Regions from separate parts of the Homo sapiens genome. Here region 1 is linked to region 2. Evidence: fine-mapped expression QTL. Tissue or cell type: lymphoblastoid cells. Region 2 holds a variant in brackets; the other region holds the start of a gene. All regions are shown on one strand. Distances are between the middles of the regions.

Region 1 (8,275 bases), 26 kb before region 2:
CCTTCATGCTAAAAACTCTCAATAAATTAGGTATTGATGGGACGTATTTCAAAATAATAAGAGCTATCTATGACAAACCCATAGCCAATATCATACTGAATGGGCAAAAACTGGAAGCATTCCCTTTGAAAACTGGCACAAGACAGGGATGCCCTCTCTCACCACTCCTATTCAACATAGTGTTGGAAGTTCTGGCCAGGGCAATTAGGCAGGAGAAGGAAATAAAGGGTATTCAATTAGGAAAAGAGGAAGTCAAATTGTCCCTGTTTGCAGATGACATGATTGTATATCTAGAAAACCCCATTGTCTCAGCCCAAAATCTCCTTAAGCTGATAAGCAACTTCAGCAAAGTCTCAGGATACAAAATCAATGTACAAAAATCACAAGCATTCTTATACACCAACAACAGACAAACAGAGAGCCAAATCATGAGTGAACTCCCATTCACAATTGCTTCAAAGAGAATAAAATACCTAGGAATCCAACTTACAAGGGATGTGAAGGACCTCTTCAAGGAGAACTACAAACCACTGCTCAAGGAAATAAAAGAGGATACAAACAAATGGAAGAACATTCCATGCTCATGGGTAGGAAGAATCAATATTGTGAAAATGGCCATACTGCCCAAGGTAATTTACAGATTCAATGCCATCCCCATCAAGCTACCAATGACTTTCTTCACAGAATTGGAAAAAACTACTTTAAAGTTCATATGGAACCAAAAAAGAGCCCACATCGCCAAGTCAATCCTAAGCCAAAAGAACAAAGCTGGAGGCATCACACTACCTGACTTCAAACTTTACTACAAGGCTACAATAACCAAAACAGCATGGTACTGGTACCAAAACAGAGATATAGATCAATGGAACAGAACAGAGCCCTCAGAAATAACGCCGCATACCTACAACTGTCTGATCTTTGACAAACCTGAGAAAAACAAGAAATGGGGAAAGGATTCCCTATTTAATAAATGGTGCTGGGAAAACTGGCTAGCCATATGTAGAAAGCTGAAACTGGATCCCTTCCTTACACCTTATACAAAAATCAATTCAAGATGGATTAAAGATTTAAACGTTAGACCTAAAACCATAAAAACCCTAGAAGAAAACCTAGGCATTACCATTCAGAACATAGGCATGGGCAAGGACTTCATGTCCAAAACACCAAAAGCAATGGCAACAAAAGACAAAATTGACAAATGGGATCTAATTAAACTAAAGAGCTTCTGCACAGCAAAAGAAACTACCATCAGAGTGAACAGGCAACCTACAAAATGGGAGAAAATTTTCGCAACCTACTCATCTGACAAAGGGCTAATATCCAGAATCTACAATGAACTCAACCAAATTTACAAGAAAAAAACAAACAACCCCATCAAAAAGTGGGCAAAGGACATGAACAGACACTTCTCAAAAGAAGACATTTATGCAGCCAAAAAACACATGAAAAAATGCTCATCATCACTGGCCATCAGAGAAATGCAAATCAAAACCACAATGAGATACCATCTCACACCAGTTAGAATGGCAATCATTAAAAAGTCAGGAAACAACAGGTGCTGGAGAGGATGTGGAGAAATAGGAACACTTTTACATTGTTGGTGGGACTGTAAACTAGTTCAACCATTGTGGAAGTCAGTGTGGCGATTCCTCAGGGATCTAGAACTAGAAATACCATTTGACCCAGCCATCCCATTACTGGGTATATACCCAAATGACTATAAATCATGCTGCTATAAAGACACATGCACACGTATGTTTATTGCGGCATTATTCACAATAGCAAAGACTTGGAACCAACCCAAATGTCCAACAATGATAGACTGGATTAAGAAAATGTGGCACATATACACCATGGAATACTATGCAGCCATAAAAAATGATGAGTTCATGTCCTTTGTAGGGACATGGATGAAATTGGAAATCATCATTCTTAGTAAACTATCACAAGAACAAAAAACCAAACACCGCATATTCTCACTCATAGGTGGGAATTGAACAATGAGATCACATGGACACAGGAAGGGGAATATCACACTCTGGGGACTGTGGTGGGGTAGGGGGAGGGGGGAGGGATAGCATTGGGAGATATACCTAATGCTAGATGACGAGTTAGTGGGTGCAGCGCACCAGCATGGCACATGTATACATATGTAACTAACCTGCACAATGTGCACATGTACCCTAAAACTTAAAGTATAATAAAAAAAAAAAAAAAAGAAAAGAAAATTCTATAACTGGCCAGGCGCGGTGGCTCATGCCAGTAATCCTAGTACTTTGGGAGGCTGAGGTGGGCGGGTCACGAGGTCAGGAGATTGAGACCATCCTGGCTAACAGGGTGAAACCCTGCCTCTATTAAAATACAAAAAATTAGCCAGGAGTGGTGGCACGTGCCTGTAGTCCTAGCTACTTGGGAGGCTGAGGCAGGAGAATTGCTTGAACCTGGGAGGCGGAGGTTGCAGTGAGCCGAGATCGCACCACTGCACTCCAGCCTGGCGACAGAGCGAGACTCGGTCTCAAAAAAAAAAATTTTATAACTAATGTGGAAACAGTTTTATGATAAGATAACATGTGCATGATGGAACAGAGTGAACATTTTTGCAAGACTAGTCAAAGCAAAATTCAAGACTTCAAAAAAAAAAATGTGTACTTGGGAGGAGCAGTTTGCTTTGTTTATATCCTCAGACCCTGGGCTATGCACTCACTTTACTCTGCTATTAGTAATGATAATAAAAAGAGCTAATACTTGATGTATCTGCTAGGATAGGCTAGCTTATACAGTGGTAAACAAACAAAACTCAATGGCAACACAATGCTTATTTCTTGCTTATGCTAAGTTATCCTCTATGGGCTGGCAGAGAGCTCTTGTTTATCAGCTACACAGAAATCCAGGCTAATAGAGCAACCAACATCTTCAGCATCAATAGTTGCCATGCCAGAGGGAAAGAGAAGCACAAGAGGCTCAAAGCAACAAATAAATGCTTCAGAGACAAAGTAATCCATCCTTTCTGCTCAAACTCATTGGTCTTTCCCAATCACTTGAAGGCCAGGAAATAAAATCCTACCATGTGCTCAGAAGGCAAAACGCCAGAAATATTTAGTGAAGAGCGCTAATTGTCTATCATTCACTATCTACCAAGGGCTGTTCTAATTATATTACAGGCATTATCTCAGCTAAGCCTCATAATAATCTTGTGAAATAGGTACTATTAATGTTATCATCATTCCCATTCTATAGATGAAATAACTGAGGCACCAAGAGGCTAAGTAACCTGCTCAAAGTCACACAGATAATAGGTGGTAAAAGCTGAAGATTTAAACTTAAGCATTCTTGCCCCAGAGTCTGTGTGCTTAACCACAAAGCCATGAGATCTCTCACTAGGTGGGAACAATTTGAGAAACACTGCCATAGGCAATGGAGAGCCACTAAAGGATTTTTTAAGCAGGAAGTGTGAGTCCATCAGAATTGGCATTTAAAAGCTCCCTCTAGAGAGCACGGTGAAGGATTAATTTAACCAGATTTAGACTAAGGCAGGAAGGCTATTTGCAGAGTGAGGAGATGAAGATGGGGAGGGCTTGAACTAAGGTACAATCACCACTCACCGCAATTAACTGGGTTTTGTTGTTGTTGTTGTTGTTTGAGACAGGGTAACGGGGTACATTGGGGGTTGGAGGGGTGGTTCTTACTGTGTTGCCCAGGCTGGATTCCAACTCCTGGGCTCAAGTGATGCTCTGGCTCTGGCATCCTGAGTAGCTAGGACTACAGGTATGTGCCACCACACCCAGTAACTAGTTAATCTTGACTGTCTATTTCAACTGAAAAATGGTTATGGTAATACCTACTTGGATGGGTTTTCTGAGGAAAAACACCCCAATGAACTTGTGTGTTTTTAAAAGTCAAGTCCCCTAGGCATGGCTAGAAGGGAAGAGGCTTAGCCAGAAAATTTAATTGTTGTGATTAATAAAGTAATAGAAATGTTTAGTTTTCCTCTGATGAGATGAAAGCTTTGAGGGGATCCTGGTCTTGGGAGAAAGTAAAGAAATGGAGGAGAGGGTTTCACCAGAGTTTAGATAACTCTTAGCATCTGCTTACTATCTTCCCTGATTAATTATTTCCATGGCAGCCAGAGTGACCTTTTAAAACCACAAATCGGATCATGCTGTTTCCCTCTCCCCTAGTACAGTGCCTGATACTTAGAAATTTCTCAGTAACATCGTGCTCAGTGAATGAATGAATGAATGAGTGAATGAAAACACAAGCCAGATGGCAGGTGGATCCCTAAGGAAAAGGACAGCCAATGAGAAATTATCTGTAGCAACGGTGGCTTTGGATGATGATGTTTAATAATCATTTTTAAGGAGTTGCCTGTTGTGTGCTATGCTTTAATCACTGTCCCCCACCCTTCCCAAATAACGTTCAGTAAAAGTCTGCCACAAAAAACTCGCTGTTTTGTGAGAATTTAAGAAATGGAAGAAGAAACAAACTGTCTGGGCACCAGGCCAAACAATATCCAAAAAGGCAGGAGTCACAGAGGAGAGCTAATGAGTATTAGTGGGAGCAGGTATTCCAAGTGAGAGGTGACCAGAGTCCTCTGAAAATGTGGGGAGGGGGTGACGTTCCTATATCCTGGGTTAGGGGCTTGGACTCTTATATTTGGCTGTTGGAAAAAACAAGCTGGAGGACTTTGGGGTATCAACAACCCTCAGGTTACATAAGGATGATCATAGGGTCGTTGTGAGGATTATGTTGGGATAGTTCATGCAAAGCGCTTAACACAGTGCCTAGCGCATAGTAAGAGCTCAGTAAATGTTAGTTGTTGTCTTCCTTCACTTTCTTCCATTCCCTCCACTCCCTTTCTACCAGGCTCCATTCATTCTCTTCCAAGGACACGCAGGGGGCGTGCCCACCCCTTCCCTCCGCCCCCACCCAAGGCCCGCCCCCCGCTTCTCCACGGATTGGTTCCCGAGAGGCGGAGCTGAAGGAAGAGCCCAGTGCGGCGCGGTGGGGGCGGGGCGCATGCGCGAGCTGGGCAGGGTGGAGGTGGGGAGGAAGAGCTGCCGGAAGTAGGCGGTGGAGGTGGTAGCGGAGCTGACGGCAGCTGCCAGGGAAACCGAGGCGCGGGACGCAAGGCCAGCAGACAGGCCGGCCAGAGGGTCATCTGCGTCCGGCACCCAGGAGGCTCGTGGTCCGCCTTTGCCTGGGCTGAGGGTCTCTGGCCCCGCAGCCTCTCTTGGAGGCGGGCCTGTCCCTAAGCCCGCCAAGGGGCGCCGCGCCGAGGGGCTGCGGAGTGGGGGACGGACGCCCCCGACCCGGGAAGGGGCGTCCGGCGGGGCCGGAGGAGAGGGCTCTCCCCGCTCAGGAGGTGCCCCTGGGCGGGGGACCGGGAGTCCTCAACCCCGGACTGAGGCAGGGGTCTCTGGGGGCGAGGAGGGCGCGTCGCCCTCTGCCCCCGCCGGCACCCTGGCCATGACAGGCAAGTCGGTGAAGGACGTGGATCGGTACCAGGCTGTCCTGGCCAACCTGCTGCTGGAGGAGGATAACAAGTTTTGTGCAGATTGCCAGTCTAAAGGTAGCGCATCCCACCTGGCGGGCCAGGGGTCCAGCCGCGCCGGGGTGGTGGGGGTGGGCTGCGTGAAGAGGCGGTTTCTGAAGCTTAGGCCGCCCAACTCGGCTTATAAGTGGTAACGCGTGCTGCGCTTGCAGTGAGCCTACTGGGCTTTCTGCAGCTGGGGGATTGGTATGGGTAGAGCTTGCGAGGGCGAGTCTGTGTGTGTCGGGGAGGGTGGAGGTGATGGTGCGGGTGGAAGTTGCCTGGCGTGTTCAGGTGAGAATGTCTGTATTTGAGGGCTCTGAATGAGTTCTGGGCCGGCTGTCCAGAGAGAGCTCCCAGCATGTCACTTGCAAAGCTGGGGATGAACTGCATTGCGTGCGTGCGTGCGTGCGTGTGTGTGTGTGTGTGTGTGTGTGTGTGAGAGAGAGAGAGAGAGAATGACGAGGAGGAGGAGGAGGGAAGTGAGATGGCGGAAAGGAAAACTGCTTAAATGATTTTTAAAGGTGGTGATTTTTGCTTCCTGCTATTTGGTTAGCAACTCCTGTCATTTTGCAGCCTTGCTAAGATCTGACAAGAGTGCTTAGGTGACTTTATTCTTCTGGATGTGTGCAGTGGGAAACTGCCTTATGCAGTGACACAGTGCGGATTTCTAGGCAGTGTAGCCCTGGCTTGTAGAGTGCGTTGGAGGCCTATGTATGAGTGGTGGCAGAAACTAGCCGATTATGCCTGTAGTGCAGGATCCGTTTAATCAGTGGAGAGAGAAAGATGAATTCGATGAATTCATTGCTTCCATGGCGATTACACTTCTAAAGGTGAAATATGATCATTGTAAATTGGCAGAACCATTTAGTCTTTGTTTTCTGTGCCCTAGAAGATTCATGATTTGATACAATTAAAAGTCAGTACAATAGGAAATCTTGGTTATTAGTGAAATGTTGGCACTTGACATTTATACAAGCTTCTATGAATCTTTTTTTCCTGTATTTTCTAATTCTTTTGGCATATAATTGGAGGATTGGGAAAATTATTTTCCCTTTGGTTGGGTCGAAATGGATAGTTATATTTTGGGGGCGACAATTTACTTTTGTTCATAATGCAGTGGATTTGCCATGGTTGTTTGCCGTACAGCGTAGTGGGCATATACTATAAAACAAAGATTCAGTTATATTCGTATTTATCTATTTTGAGAAAGGAAGGACATATTTAATTGATGCTTTCACTTAATTACCTTTTATTTTTGAAGAATAAGGTTATAAAAGGAGAACAGGGGAGGGATACATAGACACCTAGTAATGTATTTTAGTGACCTCTACCAACAGATAAATGGAATGTGCCATTAGGAAAACAAATTCCTAGACTTCTTTCCTGAATTTTTGCATTAGCAATAATTCATTTTAAAAAGTATTTTAGAATCAATTTATGTTGAGTAGGTTAGCTTCTTGATTCTTGTTACATCTTCTGTTAGGTCTATTGGAAGATTTGGTTTATTTTAGGAGTGTATCTTGGCTTTATTCAAATTCCCTTATGTCCTCATTTGACAGATCTTGAGTCACAGTGAAGCAACCCACTGGAGTGAGCATTGCTGCATTTGGAGAGTCAGATGCCATTTTGGTGACTAGAACCCCCCCCCCCATTTCTCATATTACCCTTATACTTACTCATATTCCAATAAAATACAGCACATGGAAGAGAGAGGCTGATTCACTACTTCTTCCTCCAAATTTCCATTGCTTTTTATTTATTTTATTTTTTATTTTTATTTTTTGAGACAGTTTCGCTTTGTCGCCCAGGCTGGAGTGCAATGGTGCAATCTCGGCTCACTGCAACCTCTGCCTCCCGGGTTCAAGTGATTCTCCTGCCTCAGCCTCCCGAGTACCTGGGATTACAGGCGCCCGCCACCATGCCCAGCTGATTTTTGTATTTTTAGTAGAGACAGGGTTTCACCATGTTGGCCAGGCTGGTCTTGAACTCCTGACCTCAGGTGATCCACCCGCCTCAGCCTTCCAAAGTGCTGGGATTACAGGTGTGAGCCACCATGCCCAGCCCGAAATTTCCGTTGCTTTTTATTAATAAGCTTACTGGGGATCAGGTTATGAAATATCAGTTAATTCTTAATGAGAACTAGTAACTGCTGGCTTGTAAACTTTATTAACTACTGTTGATGGTAGAATCCTGGATCCTCAATTTCTTTTCAGAAGTTCGTTTTACATTTTACCAGGTGGCTTCAGGGACTTGGTCATTGTATTAAAAATGAGATGACAATGGGTCAGTCATCTTTAGATTATGACAAATAGGCATTTGTTGAGGCCTCTGTTTATCCAATTTATGAATTACCTATCCCATTCCACCCCTCCAAGCCCTCTCACTCTTTTTCCCCTGCTGTTTTCTAATTTTGGTTGTCATAATGATCATTTGGACAACTATCAGATTGTTGAAGGAAAAGACGTTTGGATCAATAAATTGTTACCTGTTAGCGCTGATAAAAAATACATTTCATTGGAGGAGGAATTTAAAAAGTGTTGGCTAAAATGAGAATTGGGTTTCAGTTTATTTACCTGTATTCCTGTGTCCTTTCCTAAAAAATTGGAAGTTAACTGTACAGGATATGGTGAGTGATTGCTCATCTATTAATATCCAGTTAGATGATGTGGCATAGACTATCGACCTATGAGCAGGTATTTTTGCAATGTTCCAAAATATAACTCTTTGGCAATGACTTTTATT
Region 2 (8,275 bases):
TTCTAAGCTTTCTTAAGATAAGTGTTTCAATCACACCATCTACCATTTCCCTCAGAAGTTGTTCTCCTCTTATGCGGTGTGTTTAGGTGTTTGGGGCGCCAATCACTAGGGATTGGAAGGATTTTGATGAATCTTCAAGTAACCATGTCTTGAAGGTTAGCCATCATCAGTTCACTCCATGAAATGAAAACTTACGGGGATCCACTTTTGCTCTTTTTTGAAGAAGTCTATTGTCCTCAAAGGAAGAGGTGGACCTGTTCAGATTTTTAAGTTTTATCTTATTCAGTGTTTGTAGCATCAAGGGACTGGCCTCTAACGGAAGCAACTGGGGGCTTCATTGGCTTATGCAATCAGTCTCATCTCACTGACTTTACAAGGTTCTTCAATACTGGCAGAAAATCTCTTGGCTAGCTCTTTCTCCCTCCTTAAAATATGTTGGCTCTTTACTATAAAAACAATCATAGCAGCACATACCAGAATCTCCTAGGGAAACCCCCAAAGACTTGGGCCTTGTCTCAGCTCTCAGACACTACCACCAAGAGCACTGCATAGCTTTCCCAGGACCAACTGGAAAGAATTCTTTTTTACGACGATGTAATTGACAATGAAAATTGTATATGTTTACAGTATACAATGTGGTGTTTTGATATATGTGTACATTGATTTTTGTGGCAGTCAGGAGGTCCTCTAGTTGGAACAGAGACTCACCACACCCAAGAGTCCCTCTGTCTGTATCCCATCCCCAAATCAGAAAAAGGCCTGTGCGTCTCTGTGGGTAGTATTCACTCTCTCAGATTCCTCTGTGAGTCAGGAACATGACAAGTGGCATCTATATACACAGTTTTAAGAGGAAGTGATGTCACTCTTGGTGTATAGAAGTGAGAAGAGGAGTAATGAGAATTAAAGACCCAGATCACAGGAGAATTTAAGCCATACTTAGAAGTTTGGAGTTCAGTTGATGGTGGGGGGTCCAGTGACATAGCTTTGAATGGGGTGATGACATTATCAGGACATATGTTGGCAGAATGTCCTTTTCAAAGCCAACAAAGTCCAAACTAGGATCTCATTCTTTCCCTCCTGAAGTCACCTGGGGAATTGAATTGATAATAATGATACAGGATGACTGATTGATAGTTCTTTATTCCCAGAAACATCACCTAAGTATACACTAGTTACCTTCCACTGCTGGGAGAGACAACAAGGAAGAGTCACAGTAAGTCCCTACCTGTTAATAATAAACCAATGGCCAGGCCCAGTGGCTCATGCCTGTAATCCCAGTACTTTGGGAGGCCAAGGTGGGAAGATCACTTGAGCCCAAGAGTTCAAAACCAGCCTGGGCAACATAGCAAGACCTCACCTCTACAAAATAATAATAATAATAATAATAAAACAGGGCAGTAAGATTAATGTGGAGCCAAATTTACCTTTCCAGAGTAGTTTAATGAATTTTTGAGATACAGTTACTATCTTTTAGAAGAGATATGTTTGAGATAATCTGGTTAAGGTATATTGACTTGTCTAAAGTCACACAGGAAATTAGTGCTGTAATTTAGATAATTCGTATCTTTAGCTGTGTAGATAAGAAGGGCCAGTTAAATAACATGAGAAAGATGAAGAATGCCTCCTTCCTTTCTCCTAGTAGACCTCAGTCTGCTTTCCTGTTGATTTCTTTGTGTTACAGGCTTTAATGTTTTTTGAGAAAAGCCATTTTAAGTTAACTGCTGAATTAGTTTTAGACATAGATTGACTAATCATTTCATTAGTGAGTACTTAGCAGTGTTCTACCTCCCTTAACCTCCTTTTTCCGGTTACCTGGTAGGAAGATAATGTTGCTTTGCTTCATCTCCATTGGTAATCACAGCAGTCTGTCTAATTGCTATGTCTGTTCTATCATTGAGCTCCTGGATTAAATTGGTTCAGCGGGCTTGTATTTTGGTTGAGTATATAAGTGGCTGCTTTCTTCTGCTAGAATCTCCAAACCTCCATCTTTATCTTTCATACTTTGATATATTATATAAGTATGGGGGGAGTAAAAAGCAGCACCAGGATATCAAAATGGTAGGAAGAGAGATTAATGGGACTCCGTATAAGGAAGGCCTCTCTAATAGTGGGTGCCGTCTAATAGACAAACCAACTACCTTTTGAAATGGTACGTAACTGACTCAGCATTGGACAAGCCAGGTGATCACCCCTAGAAGGAGGGTGCATTCAGTGAGAGGCTGGACCTAAGAGGATTTCTAAAGTCCTTTCCACCTCTGATTTTCTAATTTTAAATTTCTTGGTGTAGGATTTACCTTTATTCTCTAACCAGTCTCAGACATGTTTTAATTTTCTTTGTCTCAGACATTTTTAAGCTTAACTTATGCTCTTTTTTCAACAGTACAAATGTGGACAGTGTTTCTTTTTGACAAACGGAAACAACATTCTTGCAAGATGGCCCAGATGGAAAGGGACTTGTCTTGCAAGTGTTCTGAAAGCAGAGGTTGATTGCATAAGCCTTTATTTTGGTCTCATGGTTCCTTAAAATGTTTGTACTTACAGAAGTTCAAAGTTACTGTTTATTGTTATTTTGGAATAAGGAACTTGATGAACTCTCTTTTGTGTGGATGAAAACATAGAGGTAAACATACCTCTCAGCAGCCCTACACAATTTTTCCAAGATCCCACTGGTGTTTCTGTGTATTCTTCCTTTTCAGTGAATCAGAGAATGGAGGGATATAATGAGTGGAACTGAGGTAACTGGCACTAGATTTGTTCTTAAAACAAATACTGCTGCTTTTTTTACTTTGACTTCCAAATTTTGGGTCAGAGTTAATGACAAGTTATGTCACGTAGAATTAATCTCTTATAAAATCTGAGTTTGTTGATTTAGGTTTTTCCTTATATGTATGTTGCATTTAACCAGTTTTCAGTGCCTGGTATAGGCTCCATGAACCAAATTTGATTCCGTGTTTTAGGTTCCTCAAGACCTAACATCTTCATAGATTGTTTGTTTCATTTTACGTTTTCAGAACCATTGAACGGTAAGCAGGAAGGGACCTAAAAATTACTGCAAATCATCTACTGTAGTAGTAGGACTGTAGTAGTAGAAAGAACTGTAGGGCTCATTGTTCACCCAATTCACCACATGGGGATCATTTCTCTACCATCCCTGAGAACTGATTACCAAACCTCTGTTTGAACACTGCACTAACTGAGATTTTACAATTTCTGGATATGCTGCATTGGTTTTTACACAACCTTAATTGTTAGAAAATTTTTCTCTAGAGTGTGCTAAAATCAACTTCTACTCCTTGGTGCCAGTTCTGCTTTTGAAGCCTTTCCAAAGTAACCTAATCCGTTTTCTGTGTTACAGCTATCCTTTAAGGCATTTGAAAACTTCTCCCTTCATTTTGCAAAACAGGAAAAATATATACATTTATGTTGCTTATTGACGAATTCATTTAACACACATTTATTGTGTACCATCTTCTGTTTGCTAGCATTGTGTCAAGTGTTTGTGATAAATGATGAAGGAACATGGTCATTGCCTTCCAGAGCTCATAGTCTATTTAGGACAAGAGAGACCTGTAAGCAACTCGAACAAGATATTAAGTATTAGAAGAACAAAGCATACCCTGGGCTATTAGCAATAGAGAAAGTTAGGGTTTATTCCATTGGAGGGCATCACAGATGAACTGGATTTTTAAGTTTGTCAAGCAGGGAATGAGGGAGAAAGCCATTCCAGGTAGAAAGAATGGTGTAGTCAAAGAGATTTGAGTGTGCTGCATATTTCACAATTATGACTTCCTCAGCATGTGTAAAGTACAAGGCTCTCAACAGACTTTATATATTATGTTAAGGAGTTTCAACTTACCCTGCAGCCAGTAAGGAGCCCTGGATGCTTACGTTGTTTTGTTTTTACGATATCTGTACTGGTTTTTCCCATTGCAAAATTAATAGAAAGCTCATTGCAAACAATTCAGAGAGGATATATAGAGAAGAAAATAGATGTTTCATTATCCCATTATCCCGATATAGTAATAATTTACATATAGTCTTCTAGATTTTTTTTCTGTGCATACGCGTACATTTATTTATTTATTTATTTTTTGACAAGGTCTCACTCTGTTCCCTAGGATGAAGTGCCATGGTGCAATCATAGCTCATTGCAGCCTTTGAATCCTTGGGCTCAAGCAGTACTCCCGCTCAGCCTCCCAAGTAGCTAGGACTACAGAGGCATATCACCACACCGAGCTCATTTATTCATATTTTAAAAAAAATGGAATTGTTTCATGTGTACTCTTTTAATACTGGATTTTTAAAATTACTATATCATGGAGATACTTTTATATGAAATAGAGGCTCCAAAATTTTTCCCCGTTAAATGGTGATACCATAATTCCTTAATGTAACCTATTAATGTTTCTAATTTTCATAAAGATGTAATAATGAACATTCTTAACGTATTTCTTTGTGTACTTGACCTGTTTTTTCCCTGATGAATTCTTACAAGTGGGGTCAAAGGATTTACTTAGTTCTTTTGTTTTTTTGAGATAGGGTGTCAATATGTTGCCCAGGCTGGCCTCAAACTCCTGGGCTCAAGTGATCCTCCAACCTCAGCCTCCTGAATAGCTGGGACTACAGACATGTGCCACTGCACCTAGAATACTTAGTTTTAATTAATCTTTAAGCAAATGTTGCTTCCCTGCTATGTTCAAGGAACCATGCTATGCCGTGAGTATATGATAGTGAATGTTACAGGTCTGGTGACAGCTCTTGTGGCACACATAGTTAAGCGGGAAAGACATCTTAAACAATCAAATAATTAGATAGTAACAAAATATGGTATGATTTAGAAAAAGTAAAGGGTGGCCAGGCACAGTGGCTCACTCCTGTAATCTCAGTGCTTTGGGAGGCCAAAGTAGGAAAATCACTTGAGGCCAGGAGTTCAAGACCAGCCTGAGCAACATAGTGAGACCCTGTCTCTTTTTTATTTCATTGATTTATTTTTATTTTTATTTTTTTCAGACAGAGCCTTGCTCTGTTGCCCAGGCTGGAGTGCAGTGG[T/C]GGGATCTCGGCCCACTGCAACCTCCGCCTCCTGGGCTCACGTGATTCTCCTGCCTTAGCCTCCCAAGTAGCTGGGACTACAGGCATGTGCCACTACGTGTGGCTATTTTTTTTTTTTTTTTTTTTTGTATTTTTAGTAGAGATGGGGTTTCACCATGTTGGCCAGGCTTGTCTCAAACTCCTGACCTCAGGTCATCTGTCCACCTCTGCCTCCCAAAGTGTTGGGATTACAGGCGTGAGCCACCGTGCCTGGCCCATTTCTTTTTTTTTTCTTTTCTTTCTTTCTCTTTTTTTTTTTTCCTGACTCTTAACACCACTCAATGACCCATCTTTACAAAAATAAAAAATTCAGCTGAGCGTGGTGGCTCATGCATCTAGTCCCAGCTACTTGGGAGACTGAGGTGGGAGGATTGCCTGAGCCTGACAGCCCAAGGCTGCTGTGAGCTATGATCGCACCACTGCACTCCAGCCTGGGTGAGAGAGTAAGACCCTGTCTCAAAAAAAAAAAAAGAAAAGAAAAGAAAGAGTGAAAAAAAGAGTAAAGGGTAAATGAAAGTTCATAACCTTTAAAAAAAAAGTCCTTATCTTTTAGAGATATATGCTGAAGTATATACAGATGAAATGGTATGATATTTAGGATTTGCTTCAGAATAATCCAGGTTGGAGTTGAGGGGCAGTGGGTGGGAGTATAGCTGAAACAAAATTGGCTAGGAGTTGATAATTGCTGAAGCTCATGGTTAATTATGCTCTGCTTTCGTTTGTTTGAAATTTTCTGTAAGGTAAAAACCAAAAGAAAGGGTAGAAGAGATGTTACAGTCGGGTTTAGACTGGGGAGCCAAGGAAAGACTCCTTTGAGGAAGAAACATTTCAGCTGAGACCCTTGTGATGTATAGGAGTTGGCCAGGCTGCAAGTGGCATTTGGCAGTTAGGGAAAGAGTTTTTTTAGGCAGCAGGAGCAGCATGTACAAAGTCCAGCAAGCCCTGAGGAAGGAACATGTTGGTCCCTTGAGGAAATGAAAGAAGGCTGCTACCATAGGAATTGAGAGGCTGCGGAAGGAGGCATGGGCTAGACCTTTAAGACCTTGGAAACTATGTTAAGGATTTTGTTATTTAATCCAATAGTAATAGAAGAATTTTAAGCAGCACAATGTGGCTTTGCTTCTTTAAGAGCTCAAGTTGGCTGTTTGGTGGAGAATGGTTTTGGTTTGGGCTCAAGGGAGAAGAGAATGTAAAAGTGGAGAGAGAGCTATTAGGAGGTTATTGCAGTGGTCCGAAAGAGTCTGGTGGCTTTAGATTACAGAAATAGTGATACAGATGGAGAGAAGAGATACTGATTTGACAGATATTTTTGTCTTGGTGATGTGGGGGCTGAAGGAGAGAGGTTTCATGATGCATAATTTTCTGACTGACGCAATGGAATGGATGGAGGTGTAGTTGACTAAGATGAAGAAAAAAGGAAGAGATTTTGTAGCAAGAGATTGAGAGCTTAGTTTGGAATATGCTATTCAGAAAATGTGCACCAATTTACATATTTACCTTTGTGTATGAGACTACATGGAAGGTTTATATTTAGAGGTGTGATCTGTACAGATTTGTGTTTTAGAAAGATTATTCTGGTGGTGGGATTCTGGAGACTAATTGCTTGTTAGTCTGTGAGCTTTTTGAATTGAGGAATCTCATCCTTATTTTCTCTGCCTTTGTATCCCCAGTACTTAGCAGGCAAATTGCTTGGCACATAGGTACACAATAAATAATGTTAAGAGAACCAATGCTGGTTGGGCGCGGTGGCTCACACCTGTAATCCCAGCACTCTGGGAGGCCGAGAAGGGCGGATCACTAGGTCAGGAGATCGAGACCATCCTGGCTACCAAGGTGAAACCCCGTCTCTACTAAAAATACAAAAACAAAATTAGCCGGGCGTGATCGCGGGCGCCTGTAGTCTCAGCTACTCGGGAGGCTGAGGCAGGAGAATGGCGTGAACTCGGGAGGCGGAACTTGCAGTGAGCCGAGATCGCGCCACTGCACTCCAGCCTGGGTGACAGAGCGAGATTCCGTCTCAAAACAAACAAACACACACAAAAAAGAACGAATGCTTATAGGTGAGACATGAGGTCTAGGTAGAAATGGATAGATTCTGGAAAAGTTTCCAAGATAGATTCCACAGGATTTGGATGGAAGATGGGAAAGTTCTCTCCCTTCGCGTAGCCTGCCCGTTGAACTTTTTGACAGGTCCGTTATGCCAGCAGGTCTAAATATAGGTAGCCATCAATTTATCAATGTTTTTTCCTCCTCAATATTTATTTGTTTGGAACTCCATAGATTAGAACTCAATGATATAATTATTATAATATTAGTAGTAGCTTGAAGTCCTCCATCACGCTAGTTCCCCTTTTCTGTCTGCTGAGTTGTCAATCCCAGAGCCCCTCTAATCCTGGCAGCTTTGGTGGTGGGGGAAGTTTCAGCAGCAAGAGGAATTTGCAGCAGTAGTTACTCCGTATGTAGAAGCTGTCCAGATGTTGAATATAAGTTGGATATTACGTATATGCTTTTCATTTTACAAATGGAGACATAAGCCCTAGAGAAACTTGTCAAAATACATGCAACAGGTCCGTGTAAACCCAGATTTTTCCGATACTGAACTGGTACTTAGGACAGTTGATTTCTTGACTGATCAACCAAATCCATCTCCATCTACTTTTTTCATTTTCCCTGATCCCTTATTGCAGAGTGATTCTATGTTAGTTTTAGTATTGCTTGATGCTGCCCACGCCTGCTCTTAGGCTCCTGTTGAATATGTGCACTTATGTGTGACCTTGTTCTTGTGTTGTGCCGATCACTACCAGTTTACATCACTTGTCTATCCTCTTTGCTTTCAAAATTGTTTGGCATATTGCCTCTCAGCATTTCTTTTCATTTTAAATTTCAAAATGGCATCTTTTATATTTTTTTCCTTGATTGCCATGACCAATGTGTATTAAACAATTGGTTTATCTCTTTTTATTGATACATAATAGATGTACATGTTTTCAGGGTACAAGTGATATTTTGATACATTCACATAATGTGTAATAACCAAATCATGATAATGCTATATCCGTCACCTTAGACATTTATCTTTTCTTTATGCTGGGAATATTTGAATTATTCTCTTCTACCTATTTTGAGATATATGGTAGATTATTATTTACTATAGTCACTGTACTGATTTATTGAACACTAGATCTTA

What was found. PIP is the estimated chance that this variant, and not a neighbour inherited with it, causes the effect.
Region 1: it holds the start of SMAP2, and the variant in region 2 is fine-mapped to the expression of SMAP2 in lymphoblastoid cells (TwinsUK, PIP 0.95).

The regions. Positions count from the first base shown.
Region 1 is chr1:40,368,655-40,376,929 of GRCh38, forward strand. It overlaps SMAP2 (small ArfGAP2), which reads left to right and starts at 5,073. Exons shown (of 10, transcript NM_022733.3): 1 at 5,073-5,569. The coding sequence starts at 5,467. RefSeq lists silencers at 4,816-5,135, 5,206-5,345 and an enhancer at 5,331-5,830.
Region 2 is chr1:40,394,156-40,402,430 of GRCh38, forward strand. The region is part of intron 1 of SMAP2 (small ArfGAP2); the gene reads left to right. Among named protein-coding and RNA genes, the nearest start is that of SMAP2, 25 kb to the left of the region's middle. The variant T/C (reference allele first, on the strand shown) is at 5,050.